Linked DNA regions of Homo sapiens. The protein of the gene in region 2 interacts with the protein of the main gene of each other region in a pairwise test. Each region holds a gene or a part of one and is shown on either strand. Other genes may lie near its edges. The genes, in order: C3orf52 and SIGLECL1.

Evidence for each region.
Region 1: the proteins of SIGLECL1 (region 2) and C3orf52 interact in binary tests that used the Homo sapiens proteins (3 or more experiments, as listed by UniProt).

What each region holds. Positions count from the first base shown.
Region 1 is NC_000003.12:112,094,824-112,104,525, reverse strand, and holds part of C3orf52 (TPA-induced transmembrane protein), read right to left. Parts: intron 1,689-9,702; coding exon 1,561-1,688; intron 1-1,560. UniProt on the Homo sapiens protein: Has a role in LIPH-mediated synthesis of 2-acyl lysophosphatidic acid (LPA). LPA is a bioactive lipid mediator involved in different biological processes, and necessary to promote hair formation and growth.
Region 2 is NC_000019.10:51,245,923-51,255,757, reverse strand, and holds the start of SIGLECL1 (SIGLEC family-like protein 1), read right to left. Parts: upstream 4,679-9,835; 5' UTR 4,213-4,678; intron 1-4,212.

The DNA.
Region 1 (9,702 bases), on a different chromosome or scaffold from region 2:
CAATGAAATCTCATGCGTGGGTACCCAGAAACTGATTCTGATGTGACCTGGATGGAATCGCCTCTTCAGGAGCTTTTGTAGGAATCAAATCGAATGGAAGTTAGATAAACAGCACTCACTCCATTCAACCTAGCAATGGCAGAGAAGAATTTAATGGAGGGCAGCCTGCTCTTGCCTAGATTTTCTTATCAAAATTTCTGGGTCTGGCTGTGAACCACCTTGTCTTTGACAGGATGATCAGGATGCCCCACCCAACGGTCCTAGTCTGGCTGCAGAGCTTCCATCTTCCACAGAGGGTTCATTCTCCTGGGTTTCTCATCCCATGACTGACACCGCCATCCATCTGCCCAATCACTCAACTGGAGCTTGGAGTCATGCTCTCCTCACCACCACCCAATCAGTCATGGACTCTTATTGAGTGAGAATACCTCTTAAATCTCACGCAAATCTTCCTTATTTTCCCGACACTGCCCTAGTTCAAGTCTCCCTCATTTCTCACCTGGACTATTGTAACACCTTCTAACTGATCTCTTCCTCCTGGCTTTCTCCACCAAAACACAGAAAGGCTAAAAGGAAAAATCTAACTGTGTCAATCTGCTGATTAAAATATTTTGGTGCCTTATTGAAGAGTGGGAAAGCCTTCATGACCTGACGCCTGCCTTCCTTTTTAGCCTTATCTCTGCCAGCTGTCACCACAAAGCATGGGAAGGCCACAGTACACTACTTTGCAGATCCTTTAATGTCCCATGCTTTTTTATTTAGAACATTCCTACCTCATTTCAAAACTCATCCTGAGCATCACTTCACTTAACAGGCCTTTCATGCCTTCATCTTCACCTGAGGTAGCTCAGATGCCCCTCCTTTGCCACTGTACAACACACTAGAACATACCACACTATTATAAAACGATCTTTTTAGTCACTTCCTGTACTTGGACTGTGAGACCCCTGAAGGCACAGACAATGTGGCCCTGGCACTTGGCATGCTGTCTAGCACATCACAGACCCTCAATGAATACTATAGGTTGAATTAAATGTAGGACCTAAGGGAGTAAAAAGAACAGTGTCCTCCAGCATTTATGCAGCTGGAGGCCAGGAATCTTCCCTCTGGCTTTGCACTACAGTAAAGATATTTACTTATTTTTTTAACAAAGTTTTATTTTAGGCTCAGGAGAATACATGTGCATGTTTCTTCTATAGGTAAACTCGTGTCATGGCGGTTTGTTGTACAGATTATTTTGTCACCCAGGTACTAAGCCTAGTACCCAATAGTTACTTTTTTTCCTGCTCCTCTCCCTCTTCCCACCCTCCGCCCTTAAGTAGGCCCCAGTGTCTGTTCCTCTCTTCGTGTCCATGTGTTCTCATCATTTAGCTCCCACTTGTAAGTGAGAACATGTGGTATTTGGTCATAAAATATATTTATAAGCATCATTTTCTGCTAAAATCCAGACAAAGAATCCAAAATTGAAGCTACTTACTCTATAGCTCTATGCCAATTATTCTAGCAAAATTCATATTCTAATGTCAAGAACTCCTTAGGCAATATATAAGATGGAATTACCCTTTCGGTGAGCAGGTGAGGCAATTCCTCTTCAGCAACACACTCCTCTGGAATCTTCAGCATGATGAAGAATGTTTTGTTTGATGATAATTCAAGTATTTCATTTTCATCTTCATCAACATAAGTTACTAAAGAAAGTAGGGGAGGTGGAAATGAAAAACAAAAGTAAACACCTGCATATAATAATAAACTTATTTATTCCATTGACTGCCATACTTAAACATAACTATGAGCATCAAGGGTAAAGGCTGAACACAGCAAGCAAGTGTAAGCAGAAATGCTTTCTCCACTCAGCAAAATTGAGTAAAATACAGGGGTTTGCCTCTATCAAAATAAAAAGTTTGTTTTATGGCAAAGGGGTCTCAGATTCCACTGAATACAGACTGGGGAAAGGGCCCAAGGGAGTAGGAAGAATATGAACTTCCTTATTAGACTAAACCTGCAGCTTAGCTAGGTACACAGGTGTCAAGGCAGGTACTGGGAGACGGTGGGGGTGGCTAAACTACACTCAGAGCCCCAGGGTGTGCAGGAATTGTTCAGGTCAATGAATTAGCATGTATTAGGGTCAAGGTATATTTATAGACTCAGATTCCGAAATCATTTACATTTTATAAATGGGAAAACAGACCCAGAGGGTTGACGAGTTTGCCTAAAACAATGAGTGATGAAGGACAGGAAGTGGGAGCAAGTAACTGCATTGACTCACCTCCCAATTCTGTGCTGGCAAAGACCACCATGAAGAAGTGACATCATCGACTCAAACAACAGAGGTGACTAGAAAATGAGCATGCGAGTCCATGTCTTGAAGTCTCCCCAGGAAGACAGAGGATGAGCATGAAGTCATCACTCTAGACTATGTCTCACAGGACAGGTATGTTGACATGCTCTGCTTGCAGAAGGGAAGCTAAACTATATTCAGAGCCCCAGGGTGTGCAGGAATTACATTCCTGGGACAATTAGTTATGTATTGCTGCTTGTGTTTAATGACTGCCATCTAATTGATTTTTAAGTAGTTGGAACTAAAGGAAAATCACACAAAGTGAGGAGCCAGGCGCCAGAAGCTAGCACTACTGTGCTAATTATGCTCCCCTGGCTCCACAACAGCCTCACCAGCTGGTCCCACACAGGAGACTACCTCTCTGGCCCTGAGAAAGGCGTAGGTGGGAGGAACCAGGTGCTTATATTGCCATAGACTTTAAGACCATAGTGGAATAAATTCAGTGTTTGAGATGGAAGGACAGGTAAAAAGGAGGAAGATTCCTGGTATTCCGGTTACTTATTCTGTGATGACATCTGGAAATACGAGGCATTACGAGCAAGGAATGTGCAGAAAAGAGTTAATATAGCAGGCCTGAGATTGCTAGCATAAGAAAGGCCTCCTCAAAATTGGTCCTGGCTGGTGTCTGAGAACCTGGATTTTCCCCTGATGAGAGGGGCTCACTGTGCCTCAACTGTTTGTACAATGTGGCTAACATCTCCTTTCCTTCTGGGAGTCTGGATTTTTAGTGCATAGTAGGCAGAGGCTACGTATATGACCAAGCCCCAGTGAAAACCCCGGGTACTGAATCTCCAATAAGCTTCCCTAGTAGATGAGATCTCACATGTGTTGTCACAGCCTATCGCTGGAGGAATTAAACAAGTCTGGTGCAACTCCACTGAGAGAGGACACTTGAAAGCTTGCTCCTGGTTTTCTCTGGATTTTGCTGTAATTAATCATTTGATGTAATGTATCCTTTTGCTGTAATAGATCATAGTGATCAGTAGGACTGCATGCTGAGTCCTGTGTATCCTCCTAGCAAATTGTTGAATCTAGGAGTAATCTTGGGGACCCCCAAACGTAGGGAATTATCCCTGCGTCCTTAATTGTTATAAGTCATGACATTATGTTGTATGATTTAAAAAAAAAGTTACGCCTTCATAGCAAAAAATTTTGCAAAGTGCAGGAAATTGTAACAAAGCAAAGAAAAAAATACGAATAATCTTGCAATCAAGAGGGTTTTTTCCTCCTATACTTGATATTATATATTTAAGGTCCTAACAAATAGGTAATTTATATCCTGCTTTTTGTTGTTTGCTGCCATTATTGCTTACTTATCCTGATTGTTCTGTTGTAAACATATCAAAAGCCATTTCCCATGTGCTTAAAATTCCTTGCAAAGATTATTTCAATGGCTTCATAATGTTCATAATAGGCTCACCTATTTTCTTAAATATGACATTTATCATTTTTAGCTTTCTACTTCTATAAATAATATTTCAATGGGTATCTTTGAGCTCTATACCCACCATGTAGATTTCCATAATAGATATCAATGCCTCAGAAAACAATAGGGGATGCCAAGAGGATAGATACAAGGTTCAAATAACTGCTAAACTCAAGGACACTGAGAAGAGATGCCAAGTGTGAAAACAGGCCTCCCATAATAGCTCTGACACATATTTAATGTGTATCATTCAAATCATGAATCTGTACCAAGACCTATCTAAATAGTTGTGTGTGTCAAAATAATAACAATAGTAACAACGACAGGCTTACTCAGTCAGGAGAGTTTTTATGTCACTAATGAGATAATCTGGGCTATACTTATTCGTGTAGAAAAAACATATTTTTAAAAATCACAAAAACATGTGTTGTATGTTGAAGGAACATGAAAACAGTTCTTTGGCTAGAATATAAGAAATTAAGCTAGAGAGAGAGCCCTTAAACGCCAGATACCTTCAAGGGGTAATGGAGTGTTGTTAAACATCGCCCACGAAGAAAGTAGAGGCTGGTGTTTAATGGAGGTTAATCGGGTGGTCATGGATGGGATAAATGAAACGAGGAGAGATGAGGCAGAGAGGCCAACAGGCACAAGTTTGGAACAGACTGATTTGACTGACAGCAGAAGGAACAAAAAGAAAAAATTAATGAGAAAGCCCAGGATAGTAGAAACAGAGCTGGCTTTAAAGGCAGCCAGACTCAGTCTGAACTCCTGTTGGCTATTTGTTAGCCAGGTGACCTTGAGCAAGTCACTTAAATCTCTGAAGCTACTTCTCCAACAGAAATATCAACACCTACAATGTAGGTGATAGTAAAGATGAAAACCAACATGCATAAAGTATCCTGCATGGTGCCTTGTAGTAAGTGGGAAAGTTGCTATCAAGACACTACCAAGGAATAACTGGTAAGATTTGGCCATTATCTAGATATGAGAAAGAAGAAATCAAAAAGGTTTCCAAGATATCAAGCCCAGGAACAGGAAGAATAATAGCTACTGTATTAAGTATGACGTGCAAACATTCTACTATGCACCTTATGAATATATTTTCCTCACATAATCCTCACATTAACCCAATGAGTTAAATATTGTTGTTTTCATTTTTAAATGAAGACACTGAGGCTTAGAGAAAATGCATAATTTGTTCAGGTCAATGAATTAGCATGTATTAGGGTCAAGGTATATTTATAGACTCAGATTCCGAAATCCTTTACATTTTATAAATGGGAAAACAGGCCCAGAGGCTTGACAAGTTTGCCTAAAGTTACACAATTGGATAGTAGCAGAACTAAAATAAACTTGGTCTTATATAAAGGGTGAGTGAATGGGGAAAAGATGAACAAATTGGGATGAAGGATATGTTATGGTCTGAATGTTTGTGTCTCCCCGAAAAATGCATATGTTGAAATCTAACCACCAATGTGAGCGTGTATTAGTCCATTCTCACACTGCTATAAAGAACTACCTGAGACTGGGCAATTTATGAAGAAAAGAGGTTTAATTGTCTTACAGTTCTGCGGGCTTAACAGGAAGCAAGGATGGGAGCCCTCAGGAAACTTACAATTATAGCAGAAGGCTCAGGGGAAACAAGCATGTCTTACCATGGGGGAGCAGGAGAGAGAGAGAAAGAGCAAACAACAAAGAGCCACACACTTTTAAACCATCAGATCTCATGAGAATTCACACACTATCATGAGAATAGCAAAGGGGAAATCTACCCCCATGATCCAATCACCTCCCACCAGGCCCCTCTTATCATTCAACATGAGATTTGGGCAGGGACACAAATCCAAACAATATCAGATGGTCTTAGAGGGTGGGGCCTTTGGGAGGTGATTAGATCATGAGGGGAGAGCACTTTTGAATGGTATTAGTGCCCTTATAAAAGAGGCCCAGAAAGCTGCCTTTCCCCTTATACCATAGAAGATATAGCTAGAAGGCATGATCTACGAAATAAAAAGTGTGCCCTCACCAGACAGCAAATGTGTGCTGACACTTTGATCTTGGAGTTCCCAGCCTCCAGAACTGTAAGCAATAAATTTCTGTTATGTATAAGCTACCTAGTTTATGATATTCTGTTATAGTAGCCCAAGCAGACTAAAATAGCATACAAACAAATGGTAGTTTCACATGTATAATAATTGAGATGATGACAGTTATTTTTAGATAAATATCTCTAGCCAAGAGTACTTCCAAAACTCAGGAAAATTGTACAGATGTAGATCTAGGAGTCACCTTCTTGGAGGCATGGCTGCTGTCCTGGGAGTGAATGAGCTCTCCAAGAAAAAGAATGAAGAATGTGAAAAGTCACGAAGCTGAAGAGAAGCCTCATGAACCCACAATGCAGATGCCAAGAGCAAAAATAGCAAAATCAACCTAAAGTCCAGGAGTTCTATAGACTCAGAAGAGTATAATGAAGTTGGCAGAGCTAAAAGCTGACAATAAGGCAGGAGACAGAGAAATGTTGGCTTCCACGATCAGACAATTGCTAGTAATCTTGGGAAGAAAAATTGGGAACCAATAGATACAAGAGGTTTGGGAGTCTGCAGGAGGCAAGATTCAAATGCAGACCTTTCTTTCTGGAAGTGTGCCAGTGAAAGAAGGGAGAGAAAAACACATATCTAAATGAAGTAGCAAGAATCCTGATGGAAGATTGCTTTGAAGGAGAGAGGATGCTAGTGCATTTGAAGAGTTAACCCATTTATACCTGAGGTTGAACTTTTCGAATTTTTGCATTCAGACTTTGGTGATGACCTTGAGCAGTAAGATATAAATAACTTCTACATGATTAGCATTCCAATAATGGAACACTAGGCATAAATTAAGAAGAACCTGAGGATGCTTAGAGAGAGGAGGAGATATCTGAAGATCTCTGGGTCAGAGGAAGCTGAAAGATATTATATGGAGACCACAGGTAAGGGTGTCCATCTTGGTAGAGAAACATCAGCGATTTGAAGAAAAGATAAACAGGTGAAAATGGAAAGAAATTTCAAGGTACTGGGTCTAGCACTGCTCTCATGTTCCTGCCCCAAAGGACCTTGGCAGCTTATAGCTTGTTAATGCTGTCTGCCTAGGATTTTCCCATGAGTCACCCTACACCAGGGAGCATTACCCTGTGAAAACTGTCAGTCTGCCAGAACCACATGACATCATAAAATGTAGCTCTTATTCACAACTGAAAGGCAAACAAATCCACTCAACACAACGTCACTTAGGAAGTCGTTGCTTATATCTCAGTACCACAGCGTTCCTACTCATAAAAGGTGTATAAATTAAGAGATTAGGGTCAGGCAAGAATCTGGGGTATAATGTTGGGGGATATCACATGAGGGTCTCCAGGATGTTATCAATTTAAATCATGTTTCTAAGCATCCACCTACTTGTCACAGTTTTGTTTTTGAAATATTTAAAATATTTTGCCCCAACCAAAACTTCATTAGTAAAGTGTTATTCAGGGTCTCACCTCTCCATGACTAGGGTGAATTATTGAAGAAAGGAGAACCCTTGAGAACACTCAACTGATCCTCCAAATTATCCAGAAAGAAAATGACTTTGAGAAAAAGATGAAGGCTTTTGTTTCTGTACCTTTCAAATCAAGAAATTTATAATTCCTTATGAGGAAGGAAAGAATCCATTAATACCTTTTCCCTAAAGAGTCTCAAATAACAGAATTCCCTGGGTTCCACTCATAAAAATGGACATTAAAAAAATTTCCATGTCGATTGTGAGTCTGGTGGACAGGTAGCCTCTTTTCCCTAGCACATACAAAGCCCCTACTCAGTGCTTTAAGCTAAGCCATGATCCTGAATTTGTCATTCTTCAATGGCATACAAGGGAAGAGTAGTGGGCAAGCCCAACCCATGTACAGGCAATGAAGGCTGCACAGTCTGTAGAGAATGAGCAGCAATAATAAAACCTACTACAAGTTGGTCTGCTTTTATTATCACCACATGCTGACAATTCTTAATTCGAGTGAAAAAATATAACTCCCCACTGGACACCCTGCCCTGGGTACCCAGGTGTCCCCTCCCCAACTTTCTGTTCTGAGATGCTTTCACTGTCCCATTTTATGTCCACCCCAACTGCACAGTTTTGAAGGCTAAAGAAATTCCGTCTTAGTTATTATTTCACTGTATTAACTTCTGATTAATCCCAGCTCTGGAAATGCCTCTAAGATTTCTATTTCATCTACTGTTGCATGTATAAGAGCACATACTTACCATAAATCTCACCCTCAGGTCTAAACAACCTTAACGTTATCTACATGCCATAAATCTTGCCCTTATGCAATTATAAAACACATCCCTTCTGAAGCATGCATACCCTTTTTCTGTGGTATTTAAGCCCTGGGCCTTTGGGGTAATGGTGCAGGAATGCACCATCTCCTCTCACTGCTGCCCAACGCATGGCTTCTGTTCCTAAAACCCTGTTAAATGTTTCTTTCTGAGTAACTGGATTTGTCAGTTTTTCTTTAGCCTCTCAGCTTCCTCAGCCTTTCTGGGTAGTTTTGCAAAGACCTGCCTACTGAAGAACAAAAGTTAACACTTCCGCCTCCAAGCTTCAGTCTGAAGACTACAGAGCCTTGAGACAGGAGATTAAGGGGTCTAGAGAAGGGTAAGCAGGCAATGAATGGCAAATATAGTTCCTGAGGAACCTTAGTCACCCAGTAAATCCAGACAGCCACAGGCACAGCCCTTGACTCTCCCAACAGTGTTTTTATCCCCAGACAACATTTCCCATGCAGTACTTGAAAGTTCCACAAATATCTGATTCATATTAATGGGCTTGGCAATTAGGAAGTGGCTGATTATTGAAGATCATCCCCAAAAAATGCCTACGGAACTGCTCTAGGTGAGGCTGGGACTGTCACAGAAGGGAGCCCCTGCCCCACCCCTTTTAACCTACTGTATCTCCCCCCACCCCCACGTCTAACATGACTCTCCCCACAGGATCAAATACCTAAGAGCTGAGATGCCAAGTAAAATACAAGTATTTCCTTGATTTAAAAAGTAGTTTGAAAAAATCTCTCTTACAGCATTGACATGTTCGAACACAAATTTACAGTTAAATTAAAAATAAAGTTTGCACTACAAGTGTTAAAAAAATTCTTCCCTGAATATTATCCCATAACCTTTTACATCTCCAGAAAAACTGTGGAAGGAAGTGAAATACCTTCCTCTTGCAGACTGCTCTTTGTGAGGTGAAGAGGTTAGATGACTTTTTGAGAATGGAAGACAGATCCTGGGTCTTGCGCTTTAGAATCCTGAATATTAAACCATCTAGATCTCTTGAATCATCCTTTATGATAGGCCCCAGATGCCAACAGGATCCAAATATCAACTTCTAGGATAGCACCAACTAGTTATGTCAGGACAAGATTGTGCTACTCAACCTCATTTTCAACATCCATGTGTTGGAATTGATATGAATAGGAAGTATGGCAATGCTCACACCAAAACTATTGTCCTCAGCATGACGGAGGAGGTGCAGCACACTTCATTAGCTTTTTCCTACCTTAACACCAGCTTATATCCTCAAACAGTCATCCAACACACCTGAACAATGCCCTAAGTAAATACGTAGATATGGTGCCTGGCCAGGAAACTTATGTGCTGGAGGTTGGCTGATGTCATCAAAGTTTTCCTATTCCTTCAGGAATTACAAAACTCTAAGACAGGAAATTAAGGGGTTGGGAGAAGGGGAAACAAGCGGTAAATGGAAAATGTAGTTTCTGAGGAAAATTCCTGAGAACTCCCTCTGGAGAGACTGGGGAGTTACCCCTTCTTCTTCTCATTCTATGACTGGGTTTGTAACTGGGAGCTGGACTCAACCCATGCCGCATGAAGGCTGGATCATGCTCGGGAGTATCCCAGCCTCAGTCGAG
Region 2 (9,835 bases):
CTAATAGGTATAAGGTGATATCTGTGGTTTGAATTTGCATTTCTCTGATGATTAGTGATGTCAGGCATTTTTTTTATATACTTGTTGGCCATTTTGGTATGTCTTCTTTTATGAAATGCCTATTCAGGTCCTTGCCCATTTTTTAATTGGGTTATTTGATTTTTTTGCTATTGAGTTGTTTGAGTTCCTTATGTATTTTGGATATTAGCCCCTTATTAGATGGATGCTTTGCAAATATTTTCTCCCATTCTGTAGGTTGTCTCTTCACTCTGTTGATTGTTTCCTTTGCTGTTCAGAAACTACTTTGCTGCAATCTTGCATGTCAATTTTTGCTTTTGTTTCCTGTGTTTTTGCAGAAATATCCAAATAACTATTTCCCAAACCAATAATTTTTATTGTGTATTACATATAAATATACAGAAGTTTTCTCCGATGTTTTCTTTTAGTAGTTTTACAATCTCAGTTCTTATATTTAAGTCTTTTTTTTTTTTTTTCTTGAGACAGGGTCCCCACTCTGTTGCCCAGGCTGGAGTGCAGTGGCATGATCTTGGCTCACTGCAACCTCCATCTCCTGGGTGCAAGCGATTCTTGTGCCTCAGCCTCCTGAGTAGCTGGGATTACAGGCGTGCTCCACCATGCCTGGCTAACTTTTGTATTTTTAGTAGAGACAGGGTTTCACCATGTTGGCCAGACTGGTCTCAAACTCCTGGCATCAAGTGATCCACCCTCCCTGGCCTCCCAAAGTGCTGGGATTACAGGCGTGAGCCACTGCGCCTGGCTATATTTAAGTCTTTAACCCATTTTGAGTTTATTTTTGTATTTGGTATAAACTAAGTGTCCAATTTCCATGTGAGTATCTAGTTTTCCCTAAAATTTTCAGGTTTTTATTTAGCCATGGGTCTACTGGTAGCTAACCTTTTTATAATTAATTTTTTTATTTTTATTGAGCTATAATTCATATACCATAAATTCACCATTTTAAAGTGCACACAATTTAGGAGTTTTAGTATATTCATAAAGATATGCAGACATCACCATTACCTAATTCCAGAGCACTTTCATCACCTCCCTAAAAACACCAATATCTATTAACATTTACTCCCCGTTTCCCCAAACCCCAACTCCACCCCCTAGTTGTAGGCAACCACTAATCTATTTTCCGTAATTATAAATTTGCCTATTCTGGACATTGTATATAAATGAAATGATATAATATGTGGTCTTTTGTGTCTGGCTTCTTTCATTTAGCATGCTTTCAAGGCTAATTCATGTTGTACCAGATATCAGTACTCCTTTCATTGTTATCGTTGAATAATATTCCATTGTATGGATAGACCACATTTTGTTTATCCATTCATCAGTTGATGGCATTTGGGTTGTTTCTACTATTTGGATACTGTGAATCAATCCTTTTTTTTTTTTTTTTAAAGAGATGGAGTCTCACCCTGTCACCCTGGCTGGTGTGCAGTGGTACAATCACAGCTATCTACAGCCTCGAACTCCTGAGCTCAAGTAGTCCTCCCACATCAGTCTCTCGAGTAGCTGGGACTTTAAGGGCACACTACTAGACCCAATTCATTTAAAAAAAATATTTTCTGTAGAGAGAGAGTCGAGTCTTGCTATATTGCCCAGGCTGGTTTTGAACTCCTGGGCTTAAGCAATTCTCCCGCCTCAGCCTCCCAAAGTGCTAGGATTACAGGCATGAGCCACTGTGCCCTGCTGTGAATCAATTGGGAATGACTGAATCATGCCATGACTGTTAACTACTTTTTTGGTTAACATCTAATGAGAAACTATGGTTGCCATTTACAACTCTAGAGACGTAGAAATTTTATCTTTTATCTTAGTCTCAACAACTCTGTGAGGTACATCTCATTATCAACACTTCCAAAAGGAAGGCAGAGATCCACAAAAGTACTATGACTGGCCCCAAGACATGCAGCCGTTACGTTCATAGATTTCAGACTCAACCTTTGACTACAACTGTGGTGTCTTTTTCATGATTCTATTTTGCCTTAAAAACTGCTGTATAAGCATGGTGAAGTTCATTCTCCTCTCCAAATTCACTTCCTCATGAATAAAATATAAGAATAAATCAGCTAGCCCTGATGTGACACACAGTATACTTAGATTTTTCCTGGAAGTGGACCAGAAGTCAGAAGACCTAATCTTTGTCGCTACTTCCTGGGTGATTCTGGGTAAGTCACTTCCCTCACTGTCAGCCTGCTTCAGAGACTAAAAACAATCATAAATGAATTTTGTTTGGCCTACAAATGCTTACTTTTTAAAACTAACTTTTAAAATGGGATAACATTTAATAATCAGAGCACTTCACAAAAAATTCAAACAACCAGCTTCTCTCTCTCTCTTTTTTTTAAATTTTAAATTCAAGTCAAACTGCCTAGATATGAAGGTTAGCTGTTTTATAGTGTGCAAGTAGCTTCACCTCTCTCTAGGCCTACTTGCTCATTTTAAAAACATGGATAATAATAGCACCCATCTTAGAGTTGTTGTTAAGATTAAATGAGTCAGTAGAACAGAACCTCACATTTGGTAAGCAATCAAAAAATGTTAGTTACTATGTATTAGGTTCCCTGCTTAGCTCCTATCAGCATTTAACTTGGAACCACTTTTTTTTTGTTTTTTTTTAACACAGGGTCTGGAGTGCAGTGGCATGAACATGGCTCACTGCAGCCTCGACTTTCCAGGCTCAAGTGATCCTCCCACCTCAGCCTCCAGAGTAGCTGGGACTATAAGCACAAGCCACCAGGTCCAGCTAATGAAAAAATTTTTTTTGTAGAGACAGAGTCTCACTATGTTACCCAGGCTGGTCTCGAACTCCTGGGCTCAAGCAGTCTTCTCACCTCAGCCTCCCAAAGTGCTGGGATTGCAGCCGTGAACCAACACACTCAGCCTGGGACCACTCTTGACCACCCCTAATCCCTTCCCAGAGTTCTGGAACCAGCCCTGTCCTTTCCTATTCCATATTTCGGCATGTTTTAACAGACCTCTCTGAGTGGTCTGTGCTCCCAACCCTTAGCCTCCAGACTGATTGCCCTTTTTCCTTCTCACATAAAAAAGATATCGCCCAAGTTTCCAGGTCGTTAAATGCCTCTCTCATTCACGCCACATATCCACTTTCTTTTTGCATTGTCAATTTTTTTTTCCTTCCCCTTTCTTCTGTTTAAAAGCCCATGTTAGATGGTCGGAATGAGCCTTGTCTAGGTCCTGGGCCAGGATTTGCCAGTAAAGCACTGAATAACTGTGGTCAAGTATTTTCCCTCTTCTTATTTCCTCATGTGTAACATGAGTGGGTTTTACTGCTGGAGATGTAATGATCCATTTAAGTACAAAATTCTGATTTCTTCTTTCTTCTCTCCATCAGTTTTAGAGCATACATGTGATGACTCGTCATGCACCCATTATATTTTCTTTTTCTTTTCTTTTCTTTTTTTTTTTTTGAGACAGAGTCTCGCTGTGTTGCCCAGGCTGGAGTGCAGTGGCACGATCTTGGCTCACTGCAACCTCTGCCTACGGGGTTCAAGTGATTCTCCTGCCTCAGCCTCCCGAGTAGCTGGGACTACAGGCACGGGCCACGATGCCCATCTAATTTTTGTATTTTTGGAAGAGACGGGGTTTCACCATGTTGGCCAGGCTGGTCTTGAACTCCTGACCTCAAGTGATCCCCGGCCTCAGCCTCCCAAAGTGCTGGGATTACAGACGTGAGCCACTGCGCCCAGCCTATTTTCCTTGACCACCATGTCTCTCAATTTTCCTTCACCATCATGTCTCTCAATTTTCCTTCTGTCTCTTGTTCCAAAGGGCTCAGGATATTCTCTGTTCTCAGCACACTTCCATCTGTGTATTTCCTTAGCAGGGTGTGAGTGATGCAAAGGTGTTCGGCTTTCTAAGGGAAGGGCTGACTTACTAATGACTGACCTATTTATGGTGAGGAAAACGATTTTCTAGGGAAAGCCAGGATAACTAACAATGAAACTGATAGACACACATGGGATAACTGTGTGAGTAATGACTGGGTGCCTTGCAGGGGTGTAACTTACCAAGAGACCGACTTAGCGGGAGCCTAACTAACCAATGAACAGGGCAGGTTCTGAAGGGAGTGGATTTTCTCATGAACTGATTTTCAAAGGGACTAACCGTTGACTCATAAGGGCACTGACCTGATTGTGAACCCACGGGCCGCTTGCTTACCTTCTTGGTAGATGGATGTCGCCCCAGCTGCCCTCTGGCTGACCAGGTGACTGACGTGGTGGAGGCTGAGGAACGCTGGCTCCTGGCGAACTCCCTGACTATGCTTAATCTCACCGCCTGACTGTTCAGATTTAGCCTCTGTCTGACCAAAGGGCTCTCAGGGGCCTCACTGGCACGAGAGCCGCCCTGGTGGCCTAACCGACCTGCGGCTGCCCCACGGCCCAAGGATCCGCTGACTGACGCTGACTGGAAGCCCAGTTAGTGCAGTTTCAATGAAGGAACCCAACAACCGCCAACAACTGCCAGGGACCCAACAACCGCCAGAACCCAACAACTGCCAGGGACGCCAACAGGCCAGGCACAGCCTTATGCGACTAGGGATCCTCAGTCGGCTGCACAGAGATAGCGGCGTGAGGGGCGTGATAGCCGCTGCAAGACCTGCTAGCTCGCATCCTTAGGTGAGTGCATCCACCCGCAGCCAATCAGCGGCTGCATGGGCTTACTTTACACAGCCAATCAGAGGCTGCATGTGCTTATTTTACAACCAATGAGAGGCTGCATGGGCTTATGTTGCAGCCAATCAGAGGCTGCATGGGCTTATTTTATAGCCAATCAGAGGCTGCATGAGCTTTTTCTACAGCCAATCAATGAAGCAGAAGCATTGTGCCCACAGGCGTGTGCCCCTGGGAGCTGATGCACGGCTGCCAGAGTCAATCAGGAACTGCAACTGCAACTCCCTCCTCCAACCTTTGTGCCCAATTGGATCTTGAGGGCTTGAGCCAATCCGCAGCTGGGGGCGGTGCCAGGGTAGTTTGTGGGCCAATTTTCTTCCCAGCAAGGCCTTTCCAGCCCGTGCTGATGAAACCACACTCCTCTCCAACCCTGAGGACTCCGTTCCTCTTGTTTAACCCTGTTTATTTTTTCTCACACTTTATCCGTCACGCACTTTCTTACCCATTACACTTTCAAAATGACAGAGGCATTTGAGCCAGAGCAACTCCGTCTTGAATAGGAGCTGGGTAAAATGAGGCTGAGACCTGCTGGGCTGCATTCCCAGAGGGCTAAGGCATTCTAAGTTACAGGATGATATAGGCGGTCAGCACAAGATACAGGTCATAAAGACCTTGCTGATAAAACAGGTTGCAGTAAAGAAACCAGCCAAGGCTGGGCTCGGTGACTCACGCCTGTAATCCCAGCACTTTGGGAGGCTGAGGCGGGCGGATTACCTGAGGTCAGGAGTTTGAGACCAGCCTGCCAACATGGCGAAACCCTGTCTACTAAAAATACAAAAATTAGCTGGGCGTGGTGGCAGGCACCTGTAACCCCAGCTACTTGGGAGGTTGAGGCAGGAGAATCGCTTGAATCCGCGAGGTGGAAGTTGCAGTGAGCCGAGATTGCACCACTGCACTCCAGCCTGGGCAACAGAGTGAGACTCTGACTCAAAAGGAAAAAAAAAAAAAAGAAGCCAGCCAAATCCCACCAAAACCAAGATGACAATGAGAGTGACCTCTGGTAATCCTCACTGCTACACTCCTACCAGCACCATGACGGTTCACAAATGCCATGGCAACGTCAGGAAGTTACACTATATGGTCTAAAAAGGGGAGGCATGAATAATTCACCCTTTCTTTAGCATGTCATCAAGAAATAACCATAAAAATGGGCAACCAGCAGCCCTCGGGGCTGCTCTATGAAGTAATCATTCTTTTATTCTTTTACTTTCTTAATAAACTTGCTTCCACGTTACTCTATGGAATAGCCCTGAATTCTTTCTTGCAAGAGATACAAGAATCCTCTCTTGGGGTCTGGATCAGAACCCCTTTCCTGTAACAAAAACACTTTGTGCTAAATATCATTTGCTAATGGTATTTTTGTTTATGGTTTGACTGTGCCACTAGAATAGAAGCTCACTTTTTGGTTTTGTTTTATGGTACATGGGAGACCTCCACTCCCTATTACAACAGTCTCCACCTCCCTGTTGCAGCAGTTCCCCTTCCACTGCTGCAAAGATTCTTCTCCCTTTATTGGAATAATTGTTTTGGATAAAATCTTGCCTTATTTATGTGCAGATTTTTTTTTTTTAATGTGACAGACTGAAGGATGATGTTCACCCTCCAGGGCCTTACTCCATGGCCCTTACAGCTTGCAGAGCAGGCCCCAGATAGACTTCCCGAGAGGGGACCTGACTTTGTTCCCTTTACCCTAGCTGTAGCAGACTGACTGCTATTACCTAAACATCTGCCAGCCCCTCTTCTACCTCCTTGCTTTGTAATTGATATTATCAGTACCTAAACTGCTTTTCCTCGCTTCTCTGCTTGCTGGCTCTTGCTTTCCCTTCAAGGTGCAGTTAGAAAGGGGCTTCCTCTGAGAAGCCTTTTCTAACTTCTTTCCCATCCCTGAAAGCTCTTGCCCTTGGGTCCCCAGACCCTAGGCCATAATTATCCCCATAATTTATATCCTTTGCCATCTTTATAGGAACCTTATCATACTGTGTTTCAGTAAGTTACCTATTTCTGTCCCTTTCCCAAACATTACCCCATGAACTTGAGCTCTCCCAATTGTCAAAATAACTAACTGGGAAGCCATTAGGCTGAGATGGCTCCAAGGCCTTTGTTTCCAAGTAAGCAAATTCAAACCTAACTCAAAGTGAATGGTCATATCCTAGAAAAATGAAACTTAGGCTTAACCAATCGAAACTGCCTACTAACCTCTAAGTAGAGACTTTACCAATCAGAAACTGCAAGTTGACCTCTAATTACAAACTTTAAGGCTACCGTTCCCCTTTAACCAAATGAAACTATTTTCTTTGTTTTGATTCCAGGAATACCTTATAAAAGTTTTCCTTGTGTGCCCACTAGGTGGTTTGGCACTTCTGGATTCATGAATGTCAGCTCAAATAAATTCTTTAAAATTTTAATGTGTCTAAGTTTATATTTTCATATGAGCCAGGGACTGTATCTTCTTCCTTTTGATGTTCTTGGAGGAGCTGAAGCAGCTAGGTTACTTGGGGTATAAACATGGGGTTCCGCTGGCACATGCCAGGACAATTTAGGACACAGAAACACACGAGGATTTTAGGAGTGGAGGTTTAATGGGTAGAAGAGAAGAGAAAGAGAAACTGCTTCCTCTAAAGAGGAAGGGGTCTTGGAACGGAAAAAAAGACCATCTGGTGGTGAATGCTGCAAATTTTATAGTCCCATTTGAGGAGGTGGTGTCTGATTCACATAAGGCTCATAGATTGGTTTGATCGGGTATAATGTTTAAATAGCACACAAGGAAGGCTGGTAACCCCACCCTAATCTTCTTATGCAAATGGACTTTCCAGTTGATCAGTGCCACCTTGTCTGCTCCTTACAGCACGTGACAGAGAAGGGAAGATGGAGCGGCCATCTTGAAAATGTCCATTCCTTAGTTCCTGCCGTCATTCACTCATGCAAGCTCCCAGGTTGCAGGCTGCTCTTTGTTAGAAACTGATTTGGGGCTGCTTTTCATTAAAAAGAAAAGCCTTACCAAGGACTCCCATGCCCTTGCTCTGGGCCTAAGTAATTCCTTCTTAACTCCTGTATTGGTGTAGCATGTAGTAGGCATGCAGGAAAAGTTTGGAAAACAAAGAAATTAGAACCTCAGGATTTCTCAAGACCGTCTTCATAAATGTGATAACAAAGGAATTCTTAACAGGACCCGTTCAGGATTAAACAAGTTTTACTGGGGGTCTTGAGACCCTTGAGACACTAGGGGCTATCTCTCCCTCCGTCTGCCTCTCAGGGTGTACTTTTGCTTTGCGATAAACTTCTTCAAATGCACTAAATTGTTTTGAAATTGGGCAACGGCCGGACACGGTGGCTCACGCCTGTAATCCCAACACTTTGGGAGGCTGAGGCGGGTGGATCACCTGAGGTCAGGAGTTCGAGACCGCCTGATTAACAAGGTGAAACCCCGTCTCTACTAAAAATACAAAAATTAGCTGGACGTGGTGGCAGGCACCTGTAGTCCCAGCTACTTGGGAGGCTGAGACAGGAGAATTGCTTGAACCCAGGAGGTGGAGGTTGCAGTGAGCCAAGATCACACCAGTGCACTCCAGCCTGAGTGATGGATCCAGACTCTGTCTCAAAAAAAAAAAGAAATTGGGCAACATAGTGGTTTTCGTAGTGAACTTGAAGAACTAGAGAAAGTTCATTTTGTTCAAGTATCTATGTGAATACAGAGGAGGAAGGCTCTAGTTCAGTGTTTCTCAATTTGGTGCTTTTTTGCACCCTGATAGACACCTGACAATATCTGGAGTCCTTTTTTGGTTGTCAAAACTGGACTAGGGGAGCTACTGACATCTTGTGTGTACAACCTAGAGACGCTGCTCAACATCTGACCATGCACCCTTGTTCCTGGACCAAACCAAGGGTCAGGCTGCTTATTCTCTTAGCCCAATGACAAGATGCAGGTGAACTGGGAGAGAAGGGAGTTTATTTCTGTAACTGGGCACAGGGAGAAGATCTGGAAAATATTGCCAGACCAACTCAAAATTACAAAGTTTTCCAGAGCTCATATACCTTCTAAGCTATTTGTCTACATGTAAGAGTGCATTCATCTGGACGTAAGCGATTAACTTCTTCCAATCTGTAACTAAGATGTCAGTCCTGAAGATCTTCCTCTGTAGCCTCAGTAAATTTATTTAAACTAAATGGGTCCAGGTGCTGGGGTGATTACCCTTATCTTGTCTCCTGCTAAATCATGGAGGTTTGGGGAGTTCCTTCAGACCCCCAATAAACTTGTTTGTGGAGGCTTAGAGGAGTTTCTTCAGACCCCCCAATAAAACTTGTTTAATCCTAAACGGGTCCTGTTAAGAATTCCTTCATTATCTTGTTATGCTCAAGGCCCAGAAAAGGCCTGGGCAAAATTCTTGGTGGGCTTTTGTTACATTCCAGCCTTTGTATGAGGGCACTGGCTCTGTCAGCTTTTAATATTTAACTTAACCACTCAATCAGTGCTGAGACAGTTGTTATGGAGGCCTGCCTGTTCAGCGGTTAGGGAGACCTGACCTGCCACACCCTCCCCTAACCACCACCACCAAAGAATTATCCAGCCCCAAATGCCAGAATATGAATATCGTTGAGGTTGTGAGGCAGGATAAGTAAGGTTAGGAGGCCATACTCACTTGTATCCTTGCGCAAAGCCCCATGGATCCCTTTCGAAGCAGATTCTTTGGTTTTCACTCTCGTGAGTCAGCACCTAACTCTTGCAAGATAAACAGTCCTACAGGATACAAGCAGACCACCAGATGGTTGCAAGTTCCTGTTAATGTGGCCTGGGAAAGAGAACAAAAGCCACTTATTCATGGTGTAGTTTCCCCAGTCTCCAGCCAATCAACACCAAAAACCCAAGAAGCTGTGAGCTACAAATTCCTGCCTTGGGGGAGCTGGGAACTTCTCCAGGGCTCTGCGTGTGCAGCTATGTTCAAAGTTTAGCTTATAGTGACCTTTTCCTCATTTGAATAGTAGAAAATACACCCCTAGGTGGAGATTTTATATGCTAATGATACATGCAATGCGTGTTAGAGCACATAGATTCTGAGTGCATGCCTTTCATGCTGGACTCACCAATATTTTATGAATATGTATGTATAGTTCCC